Regions from separate parts of the Homo sapiens genome. Here region 1 is linked to region 2. Evidence: fine-mapped expression QTL. A gene starts in region 2. The other region holds a variant in brackets. All regions are shown on one strand. Distances are from middle to middle.

Evidence for each region.
Region 1: its variant is fine-mapped to the expression of AGK-DT in caudate (GTEx, PIP 0.97).

What each region holds. Positions count from the first base shown.
Region 1 is chr7:141,443,050-141,448,428 of GRCh38, forward strand. All of the region lies in intron 3 of TMEM178B (transmembrane protein 178B), which reads left to right. Among named protein-coding and RNA genes, the nearest start is that of AGK-DT, 110 kb to the right of the region's middle. The variant C/T (reference allele first, on the strand shown) is at 1,996.
Region 2 is chr7:141,549,114-141,554,456 of GRCh38, forward strand. It overlaps AGK-DT (AGK divergent transcript), which reads right to left and starts at 2,231. Exons shown (of 6, transcript NR_183408.1): 1 at 2,031-2,231. AGK (acylglycerol kinase) reads left to right here and starts at 2,297. Exons shown (of 16, transcript NM_018238.4): 1 at 2,297-2,321. RefSeq lists silencers at 2,092-2,181, 2,362-2,541.

The DNA.
Region 1 (5,379 bases), 110 kb before region 2:
AAGGCCAGCAAGAGAGAGAATCTCTGACTTCTTCCATCTCTGACCTCTAGACCCTCTGTTTGTTTGATTTTTAATAGACCTTATTTTTAGAACAGTTTTAGATTTACAGAAAAATTGAGCAGATTGTAGACTTCCCATAGTATCCTCTGCCACTGTATCCAGTTCCCTGTATTATTAACATGTTACATGATTATGATACATTTGTTATTACTAATGAGTAAATATGTACATTATTATTAGCCAACGGCCCCAGCTGACTCCGATTCCCTCAGTTTTTACCTGATGCCCTTTTCTGTTCTAGGATCCCGTTCAGGACACCACACTGCACGTCATTCTCGAGTCTGCATAGGCTCCTCTTAGCTGTAGCTGTTTCTCAGACTTTCCTTGTTTTTGACGATCTTGGCAGTTTGAAAGAGTACTAGTCAGGCATATTGTAGAATGCTCTTCTATTGAAACTTGTCTGATGTTTTTCTCACGATTAGACTGGGTTAGGGGTTTTGGGGAGAAAGAGGTAAAATGCCATTTTCATCACATCATTTCAACATGATTTATGACTGTTGATATTGTCCTGATCATGTGTTTCTCAAGTTTCCACACTGTAAAATTATTTTTCCCCCATTTCCCATGACTTCCTCGGAAGGAAGTCACCACATGCAGCCCACGCTTGAGGAATGGGGCGTGAAGATGGAGTGCTGCGATGGAGATGCTCCTGTAGGATGGAGTAGCTATCTAATTTGGAATTCTTCTGCGTGGGAGGAGGTCTGTCTCTTCTCCCCCATTTATTAATTTATTCAGTCATTTATACCAGTGTGGACTGATGAGCATTTATCTTACACTTTGGGTTTAATCCAATACTACCTTCTTTTGTTGCTCTCATTGGTACAGCTTTGGCCATTGGGAGAGCTTTCTGTTGGCTCCTGTGCCTGTTTGAGATACCCCCATCAATGTGGGTTTTGGTTTTGACTACTTTTTTATTGTTTGCTTGTTGGAGCACTTAGTTTTTGGCAGGCTTATCTTATATATTTCCTGCCCTAGACCTAGAATCAGCCGTTTCTTCAAGGAGCTCTGTTTCCTTTTATTAGAGAAAGGTATCAGAAACCAAGATATGGGTGATTGGGTGCTAGGTATCTGAAATGTTTTTAACATTCTGGATTTGTTCACTGTCTCTCTCCCTGAACTTAGATATATGCTCCATGATCTCCAGAACTTTGTCTGCTTTCATGAAGGGATACCTTCCCTAAGGTATCACTAATGTCGGGAACAATGTCTGTGCTCTTAATAAATATTTGTGGAACAAATATATAGGAAAAGTGAATTGTGTGTAACAAACAAAATATTTTGGTTTTGTCTCAATAGAGCAGCAATTCTTCAGTAAAATACCCCATCTTATCTTCTGTTCCTATTCTAATCATCTCCCCTTTCACAAGATTTCTTGTCCTCTTGTTGTCTTTATTTGAACAGTCCAAGGATCTACTTCTGTTATAAACTATCTCAAATTCTTTTTGGAGATAGAGTATGAATTACACTTGAATTCATGAAGAGCTTTCTGTCTTGAACTTGGACTCATAGATATAAAATAAAAGGGACTTTAGAGACCAACCAGTTCCACTTCCTTGCGTCACCAGGTAAAAGTAGTCATGTCAAGTTGTCCTAGGTCACCTGGCCAGTGAGTGGCAGATGAGAGCTGGAGCCCAGCCTGGGACCCAGCCTGCTTTCTTGCATCCCCAGCCCTGCCCCTGCTTTTGGCACCCCGTGTTGAAGATCTCCCATGTTCAACCCCGTGTTGAAGAAGCAGGGGCCCCACAGCCCCTGCTTCTTCCCACACTAGCACAACTCTGGTTCTGGGCTTCTAAGTGGGTGCCAGTATGTGTCATTCACTCTGTGTCTCCCTCTCTCCCTTCCCTCCTTTCACAAAGCACAAAGGGGCATATGGAGGAGACCGCGGCCAGAACCAAGGGCACGGGTGGTAATGAGAAAAGGAAATCATTAAAGTTT[C/T]TTTTCCTACCACCTGTGATCAGTGTGACCTTTTATACCTTCCCAGTCAGTCAGGGGGAATGAAGAGAATGCCCTAAAGAAGCTCAGGCTATTATGTGTGAGTGATTGCAGTGATTTGCAAGCCGATGATGCCACATGTCTGGCATCTATACCCGCTCCACCAAGCTCACCAGAGAGCAGTTCAGCTGTGTGATGAACCCCCAGACACTCAGCATAACACTCTTCTGCTGCTAGACAAAGACCTTCATGGAGGCCTGGGCATTCTGAAAATATACAAGCCTAAAATGAGAAGTCCAAGGCAATGGCCATCTTGCCTGGAGGACTGTTTCTTTTAGACAGTAAAATGATTTAAGGGATCTTATAGAACAACATTCAGGTTTCCCCACCAGCCTTTCCCCACTGTTATTCCTAGCTTGCTGTACTTAGAAACATGCTAGGATGATGTTTCAAAGTAATTAAAAGTAATGACAAAAATGGCAGTTACTTTTGCACAAACCTAATATAAGTTCAGGAGGCATTATATCTCAAACTTCATGACTCTTAGGTCAGAGAGGGGAGACATGGAGTAAAAGGACCATATAAGTTAGATATTTTGGGGAGGGAGAATATATTCAGTAAGCTAATGACTTACTATGAGACAGGCTTACAATAAACCCTTGATAAATGGTGCTGTTACTGTTACATGTATAGCCTAAGTGAAGTCCATTTTAATAGGCAGAGAAGTATCTGTGAGCTATCATGGTGAATCAAGGGCAACTCTGGCATAAAACCCATCTTCTTACCCTGCCAATCTGCTTTTATAGTTTTATGTGAGATTTCACTAGAACATCACAACTCATCTCTTGACTTTTTGTCTTATAATCTTTCTTTCAAAATCCTGATTAGAGACTCACAAACTACTTCATACCCTGGAGCGTATCTTGCCTCTTGGAAAGTGCAGATTTCAATATTTATTAGCATTTGATGATTACAATTAAAACAAATCAGGGAGGGGGTAAGTCATGTCACTAAAAGACATTTGAGGGAGAAGACACATTGTCAGGAGGACTAGGAAATAACATCCGGGTTTACCTAATGTACCTCACGTAGAATGAGTGGCCAGGATGCACCACTTCAGTAACCCAGGCAGCAGGAGGGCCTCATTTTCACACTGAAGCTGGGGCAGACCCAAAGGAGTTTCACCTTTGCCACCCAATGGGACCTACCCCTTCTACAGATGTGGGGTTCAGAAGAGAACAGGGAGCAGCCTTATCCAGATGAATCCAAATCTGGTCAGCAATTAAAAGCCTTGTCAGAATTCCCCATCACTCGCCTGCCAAGCCTTCAGGAAAGCCACAGTGCCACATGTTCGCCAGAGCAGGAGGAGTCTTTGTCATTGGCTTTCTGGATGGAAATGCTAAGACAGAGCAGCCCCTGGAAGGAAATGCAAAGGAGGATGGTTGGTGAAGGCATCTCAGAGAGTTTCTTTGGGAAGAGCCAACCCTTGTCTACACTTGCACATGAGCTGTCTTCCATTCTCTGCCTCTTGATTGGGGGTGAGAGTCCTAGTTAAGTGGAATCACCCAATTGAAGAGGGAATTATGGTTTTGTCATGGAGAACCAGTCCAGGACCAAAAGAGTCTTGGACTAGCCATGTGGCCCTAGGAAAGTTTCTTATCCATTTTTCATGCCTTGCTTCAATTTTCTCATCTATAAAAGAGGTCCAATAACAGGACACACTTCAGGCACAGCTATGAGACTTGCAGAGTTAATACATGTGAAGGGCTCACAACAATGCCTGGCATTGTGCTGAATACCTTTTAAGTTATTATTATTATTTAGCTACTGAAGTACTTCTTTTTTTAAATAACCACCTTTAGTGACACTGCCCTGAGCAGCATCATCCCATCACTACCAATGCCACACAAACGCACTACATGCCATCGAGATGAAAAAGAAGAAATCTTTAGACAGGTAATGTCTCTCCGACTGATCACCCGTACTCATTCATTTATTTGTTTGCTCAATAAATACTGATTGCCTATTATGTGCCAGACACTGTCGAGGCACCTAGGATACAGGGAAGAGCAGGATAAAGTCCTCAGGAAGCTTACGTTCAAGTTGGAGAGACAGACCAAAAGCAAGTGCCATAAAAATATAGTGCGATGTTAGGTGATAAGAACTATGGAGAAAAATAAAGCTGGGAAGGTGATAGAGATGGGGGCATGGCTGTTGTTAGAGAGGGCTTGGAGGGCCTATCAGTGGTGGTGATGTTTGAACAGGGCTTGAATGTAGGGGGCAGGAAGCCATAAGAAGACTTGGGGCAAGATCATGCCAGGTAAAATGAGCAGCAAGGAGAAGGGGCCTGGGAGAGGACTGAGCCTGTTGGGTCTGAAGAAGTTGAGTGAGAGGATGACCGTGATGGGAGCAGAATGAGACAGAGATGACTCCGCCAAGAGCAGATCATTAAGGGCCTCAGAGGCGTGGGCAGGGGCTGATGGACTGAGGGGCGTCCATCCGCATTCTGCTTGCTCTGCTCTCTATCTGTTTCACAGCTTGCCCTGGGCTTCTTTCCTGGGCAATCATTTGATACCGTGTGACTTTTATCAACCTCTCTGGCTATGTCAGCCTCTCTACCACCTGCCACTCCCAGTTCCAGTGAGTGGGGTGCTGTGTCTGTCCATATCTGGAGAAGCCCGAGCAGGGTTAGGGGCTGGCATGTGCCCCCTGAAGGTGTTGCAGGGGCAGCCGCACCATCTAGCCTGTACCAGCTATACAATTTGTGGGGCCCAGTGCAGGATGAAAACCCAGGATGTCTCGTTCAAACATGATTAAGAATTTCAGGACAGCAACAGTAGAGGATCCAAGCAAGTGGGCGACTGCATAGATCACATGCCCATGAAGCCAGTTCTGCCTCTAGCATTGTCCCACGCTTAAATGCCCTGAGCCCGGAACTCCATAGACTTTTGCTGCAGGGGCTCCCAGAGATCTTAAGAAACCAGATCTCGTCTCTATTCTGCTTGTAAACCCCCTTCTCCCTAACCAGTCTGCTGTGCTTAAGACCACCGCTTGCCTTTGATGACTGAATAATCACACAAAGCATGTGTGCCTCTTTCCTTATGTCAAAAGCTACTCCCCAAATATTGAGAACACAACCTGTTAATCAGGAAAAGCTGTTAATAAGACAATTGCTTTCTGTGATAAGAGAGAATGTACCTTGAAAAACTTTGGCAGGGCCTCCAGGGGAGGGAGTAAGATCAGAATTTATTGAGAATTGGACGTTTGATTTAAAGCCATTATTTCAATGTGGACATGTGATTAACGTTGGGTATGAATAATTAGATAATGATTGGGTAAGAATAATGATAATGTCCTGGACTGGTGGCAACAGCAAGGTGAAGATTT
Region 2 (5,343 bases):
TTTGAGAGGTAGTTTTGCTCTTCTTGCCCAGGCTAGAGCGCAATGGCGCGATATCGGCTCACTGTAACCTCCGCCTCCCAGGTTCAAGCAATTCTCTTGTCTCAGCCTCCCATGTAGCTGGGATTACAGACACCTGCCACCACGCTTGGCTAATTTTTGTACTTTTAGTAGAGACAGTTTCACCATATTGGCCAGGCTGGTCTCAAACTCCTGACCTTAGGCAATCCACCCATCTTGGCCTCCCAAAGTGCTGGGATTACAGGCTTGAGCCACTGCGCCCAGCCTAACAGAAGTTCTTGGGGCTGCCTAAGTCAGAGTGTCAGGTTTCTGTTGGGCTGCAGGAACCCATTCAGGGCTGGCTAGAGCTTGTGCCTGATTATTCTGGAATCTGAATGCATCCTAGTAAAATGGTATTTGGAAGAGAGTAGAATTGGTATAGGTCTCCAAAACTCCAACCTACACATCTGCCTGCAGGTGTGTATTCAGATTCCCTTAATCTCCTATATTTCCATCCTTCTTCATCCTTCATCAAAGCTGACCTTTTCTTATTTGGGGAACCACTTTCATGCTGAAGCCCTAAAGCATACGCTGAGTCTGACCCTTGGAACATCAAAATCAAGTCTCAGATTTTTCTAGCCTGCAGGTGAGCAGTTCAGAAGCTTATTTCCAAACACAAACGCTTTAGATAGTTGGAAAAGAGGAACTGAAAATAATGGTCTTCCATACCCTATGACAACATTTTAGAGCTAGAAGGGTTTTTTTTTAATAGTAATGTTCTCAGTCCCCTAGTTTACAGATGGAGACTCAGGAGAGAGGGCTAGAAATTTCTTGCTACTAAACAGTGTGGCCCAATGGATTGGTGCACCCTGGCATAAGGAATATGTTTACTGCACCATAGCCTCATTGAAGGTCCCCGCCCCGGCCTTTTTTTTTTGAAGCATTCACCTAGGGAGACATAGGTAGGATGCATGTCTACACGTAGGAAATGTGCAGACTAGATAGCAAGCTCCATGGGGCAGGAACCATGAAGGGCCTTGTACCTGAGCATACCCCCAGTGCCTGATGCAGGGCCTAGTGCACACTCAAATGTTGGTTGACTGGCCGGGTGCGATGGCTCATGCCTATAATCGTAGCACTTTGGGAGGCCAAGGCGGGCAGATCGCTTGAGGTCAGGAGTTCGAGACCAGCCTGGCCAACGTGACAAAACCCCCGTCTTTACTAAAAATACAAAAAAATTTAGCTGGGCCTGGTGGCACACACCTGTAATCCCAGTTACTCGGGAGGCTGAGGCACAAGAATTGCTTGAACCCGGGAAGCAGAGGCTGCAGTGAGCTGAGATTGCACCACTGCACTAGCGCCTGAGCCACAGAGTGAGACCCTGTCTAAAAAAAAAAAAAAGTTGGCAGACTGAATGCTGGAAAGAAGAAGGACCTGGCTTTGTCCCCACACCAATCTGGTGGGCGAGTACAGAATGTAAACTGTCTGGAGGTTGGCATTGGCCTAGCTTCTCCGTTGCTCTCTTGTTCTCTAGAATCCAATCAAGCACCTGTGGCCAGAGAGCTGTGTGAAATGGAAACCAGTCCCACCAGCCCCTGATTGCACCCCCGCAATGTCTTCTCGCCCTGTTTAATGTCATGTCCAAACTCCTGGCCGCCGTGGCCTGTCTCCACCTCTCCAGCTTCCTCGCTTGGCCTGTCTCCTTAGCTCTCTCTGTCTCACCCACACTGGCCTGCAACTCGCCAGAGTGCCCCAGGCTTTTCAGCTTTTGCACGGGCCCTTCCCTCTCCAGGCTCTCTCCCCTGGATCTTTGCTTCAGCTGCTCCTTCTTGACATCCAGGTCTCAGACCAATGGCCCCTTACTCAGAAGGCCTAGCGCAGGCCGCCTAATTTCACACAGTTCTCCCCCTTCCCGCACTGCCTTCCATCACCTCGTTTCATTTTCTTCGTGGCACGGAGCACCATCTCCAATGGCCTTGTTCATTTAGTTAATTTATTTTCCGACTTAGTTCCAGGTGCTAAAACAGTGTTACCTTGGCAGGCTTCCCATCAAATATTGTTGCGCAAAGGATGGATGGATGAAAGGAAGAGTGAGCCAATAAACGAGGGAACGCCGGGAAAGGCAGCCTCAAGCCGGTGGGCCCTGCCACCCCCACCGTCCCTGAGCATCCGAGCCGGTTCCCGCCCCCGGCCCGAACTGGCCCGCGCGCGCTCGCAGCCCCGCGGCGGAACCCGAGGGCGGCGGCAGCGGTTTCCCTTGAACGAGCCGGGGAATCTGGAGGGAGCACACAGGAAAGGCAGAGCCGCGAGCTGGACCAGCCGTGGTGAGTGCAGCGGCGCCCAGGCGGGGAGCGCAGTGCGGGTCGCTGGGACTGAGCGCGCGAGCGGGGTGGGAGTCGGGATGGGGGCCCGGGGCGCTGGGCGGAGCCTCTGGAGTCGCGCTGGGCCGAGAGCCGCGGGGACCCAAGCATCAGGGGTCGTGGGTGCAGGCGGCGGCGCGGCTTGAGGGTAGGGGGTGCGGGCCTGGCCGGCGCGGCAGGGGAGGGCCTCGCGCGGATCCCGTGGTCACGGCGGGAGTCAGCTGTCCTGGGTTCGAGTCCCAGAGCTGTCGCTAACTTGTGGACCCCCCTCACTTCGTCCCTTGGGCTTCAGCATAGCCCTTTGCAAAATGGGGCCAATAGTATCAGATCCATTGATGGGTTGGTTGGTTCATTCATTCTGGCGCTTTACTAGGTTCTGGTGCTGCAGATGGATAGACGAACTTGCCCATGAGGGGTTCACTATCTAGTAAGAAAAACATTTCCACCTGGATACTCCACAGGCGTGTCAAATTCAGTATCTCCTAAACCGCACTACTTTTCTCCACAAACCTACCACTCAAATCTAAATGACTGAAATCACTATTCAACCAGTCACCCAAGCACAAAAACCTGGCTTGGTTCCTCCTCTCTCACTTACTACAGTCAATGGACCACCAACTGCTGCCAATTTCTACTTTCTAAAGCTTTCCAAATCCATCCTTTATCTTGGTTTGTTCTTTTAGGAGCCTACAGATTATGGCAATAACTTCCTAATGGTTCTCTTTAGCTTTAATTTTAGCTTCTTCCAGTTCATTTTTCATTCTGCTATAAAGTGGTCTTTTAACAGTTCAAATATGATTATATCACTCACCTGCTTAAAGCCCATTAAAGGTTTTTCATTGTCTTCAAAATAATAGCCAAAGTCCTTAGTGTGGGTTCAAGGTCTTTTCTAATCCCACCTGGTCTTCAATCCTTTATCTCTAAACCACTGTTTCTCAAAGTCTGGTATAGTGGTGACCTCCATTGCAACCAACATGGGAGTACTTGTTAACAAGTGAAGATGACAGCTTAATTCCAGAACAAATGAGACTCTTGCGGGAAGGGGCAGTTCCCAGGATTCTGTGTTTTTAACAAGTTCTGCACTAAAGGTTGAGAACCCCTGTTCTAGACACTCCAATTTTTACTCCGCTGTTGATGAGATTCAGGACACACTGCCGCAAAATATGACTCGTTGGCATTAGAGGAAACAACTGAAGCAGGAAAGTCACTTTGTGTCTTCCCACTTTTCTCCCCTGAAGCAGGCCATAAAAGAATTGTTTGACCTTCTTCTGTATAAGACCCTTCAGTGAGAGGTGCTCATCCTGTAAGTATAGGATCGAGGAAAGGAATGCCCTTATCTTTGAAGACACAGGTACACAGAGAAGAATCAGAACAAATAGGCCTTGCTAAATTCTCCCCAGCGTATTACTGTTAGATCATACCCCCTTTTTCCAGTCTCAGCCATGAACCTAATTCTCCCCTCAACTATCTACGTATGTTTCTCTCAACACACTTTACTGTCTTTTATGCCTTTGTACACTCTCAGTTTGGGCTACTGTAAAAAAAAAATAGCAAAAACTGGGTGGCTTAAACAACAGAAATTTAATTCTCACAGTTCCGGAGGCTGGAAGTCCAAAGTTAAGGTGCCAGCATGGTTGAGTGCATGGTGATAGCTCTCTTCCTCGGTTTGTAGAGATCTGTCTTCTTGCTGTATCCTCACAATGCAGAGAGACCATCTCTGTAGTGTCTAGTCTCATAAGGACACTAATCCCTTTCATGGGAGCCACTCTTATGACCCAATTATCTCCCGAAGGCTCTATCTCCTAATACCATCTCAATGGGGATAGGGCTTCCACATCACCATTTTTGGGGAACACAGCATTCAGACAATAGCATCCACAAAACTCCTTCGTTACTTTAGTGATTTCCTCCTCATTATTCAAGGCTCAGGGAAGACTTCATTGACTGTGCACCACCCCCTCAGCCCTAGACCAGGTTAGGTTCATTCTTGCAGACTCTCACAAAGCCTTGTGCTGACTCCTCGACATTTATCCCACTGTACTGCAATCATAATTGTATAATTGTGTTAGCATTGTGGGTTTGACAGTTGTGAGCACTTGAGAGAACGCATGAGACCCATTCTTCTCTGCCCTCACCCCCAGCACAGAGCCTACCATATAGGTGTTTATTAAAGGGCTCTTGAATGAAGGAGTGATTTAGGGCCAGATGGAGAGGAGTTCAAGAATTAGTTGGGCCTTTGGAATCATGTGTCAGCCTGACGGTGTATGGGATTCACAGGAAGATGGTCTCCCTGGCACTGGCTTCACTGCTGCTTTTGATAAGGATGTTTCTACCCTTGAGAGGAATTTTAACCAATGGGATTTAAAGGGAGTCATAAAAGAACTGGACTTTTAAGTGGAAACAGTTTTTTTTTTCTTGGTCTATATACCTCACTAACAGATAGTCATAAAAAAATTTTGCTTAAATTTTTGTTTATCTAGAAAATAAGTTCATTTTCAAAAACTTAGAAAGTACATTGCAATTTTAAAAATAAACATCACCCACCATTCCACAACCTAGAGGGATCTACTTTAAAATTTCGTTTTTGAGCCAGGTGCAGTGGCTCACGTCTGTAATCCCAGCAATTTGGATGGCCAAGGCGGGAGGATTGCTTGAGGCCAGGAGTTTGAGACCAGCCTGGGCAACATAGTGAGACCTTGTCTCTAACAAAAAAAGGAAAGAAAAAAATTAGCCAAGTGTAGTGGTATGTGCCTGTGGTCCCAGCTACTTGGGAGGCTGAGGCAGGAGATTTGTTTGGGCCCAGAAGTTATAGTGAGCTATGATTGTGCCACTGGACTCCATCCTAGGTGACAGAGTGAGACCCTGTCTAAAAAAAAAAAAAAAAAAATTGTTTTTGTTTAATTGTATTGGTTTTCTTTTTAAATTTATACTCATGTTTGAACATAATTGGTATAATGCCAATTATATATGGCTTTTTATCCTGCTA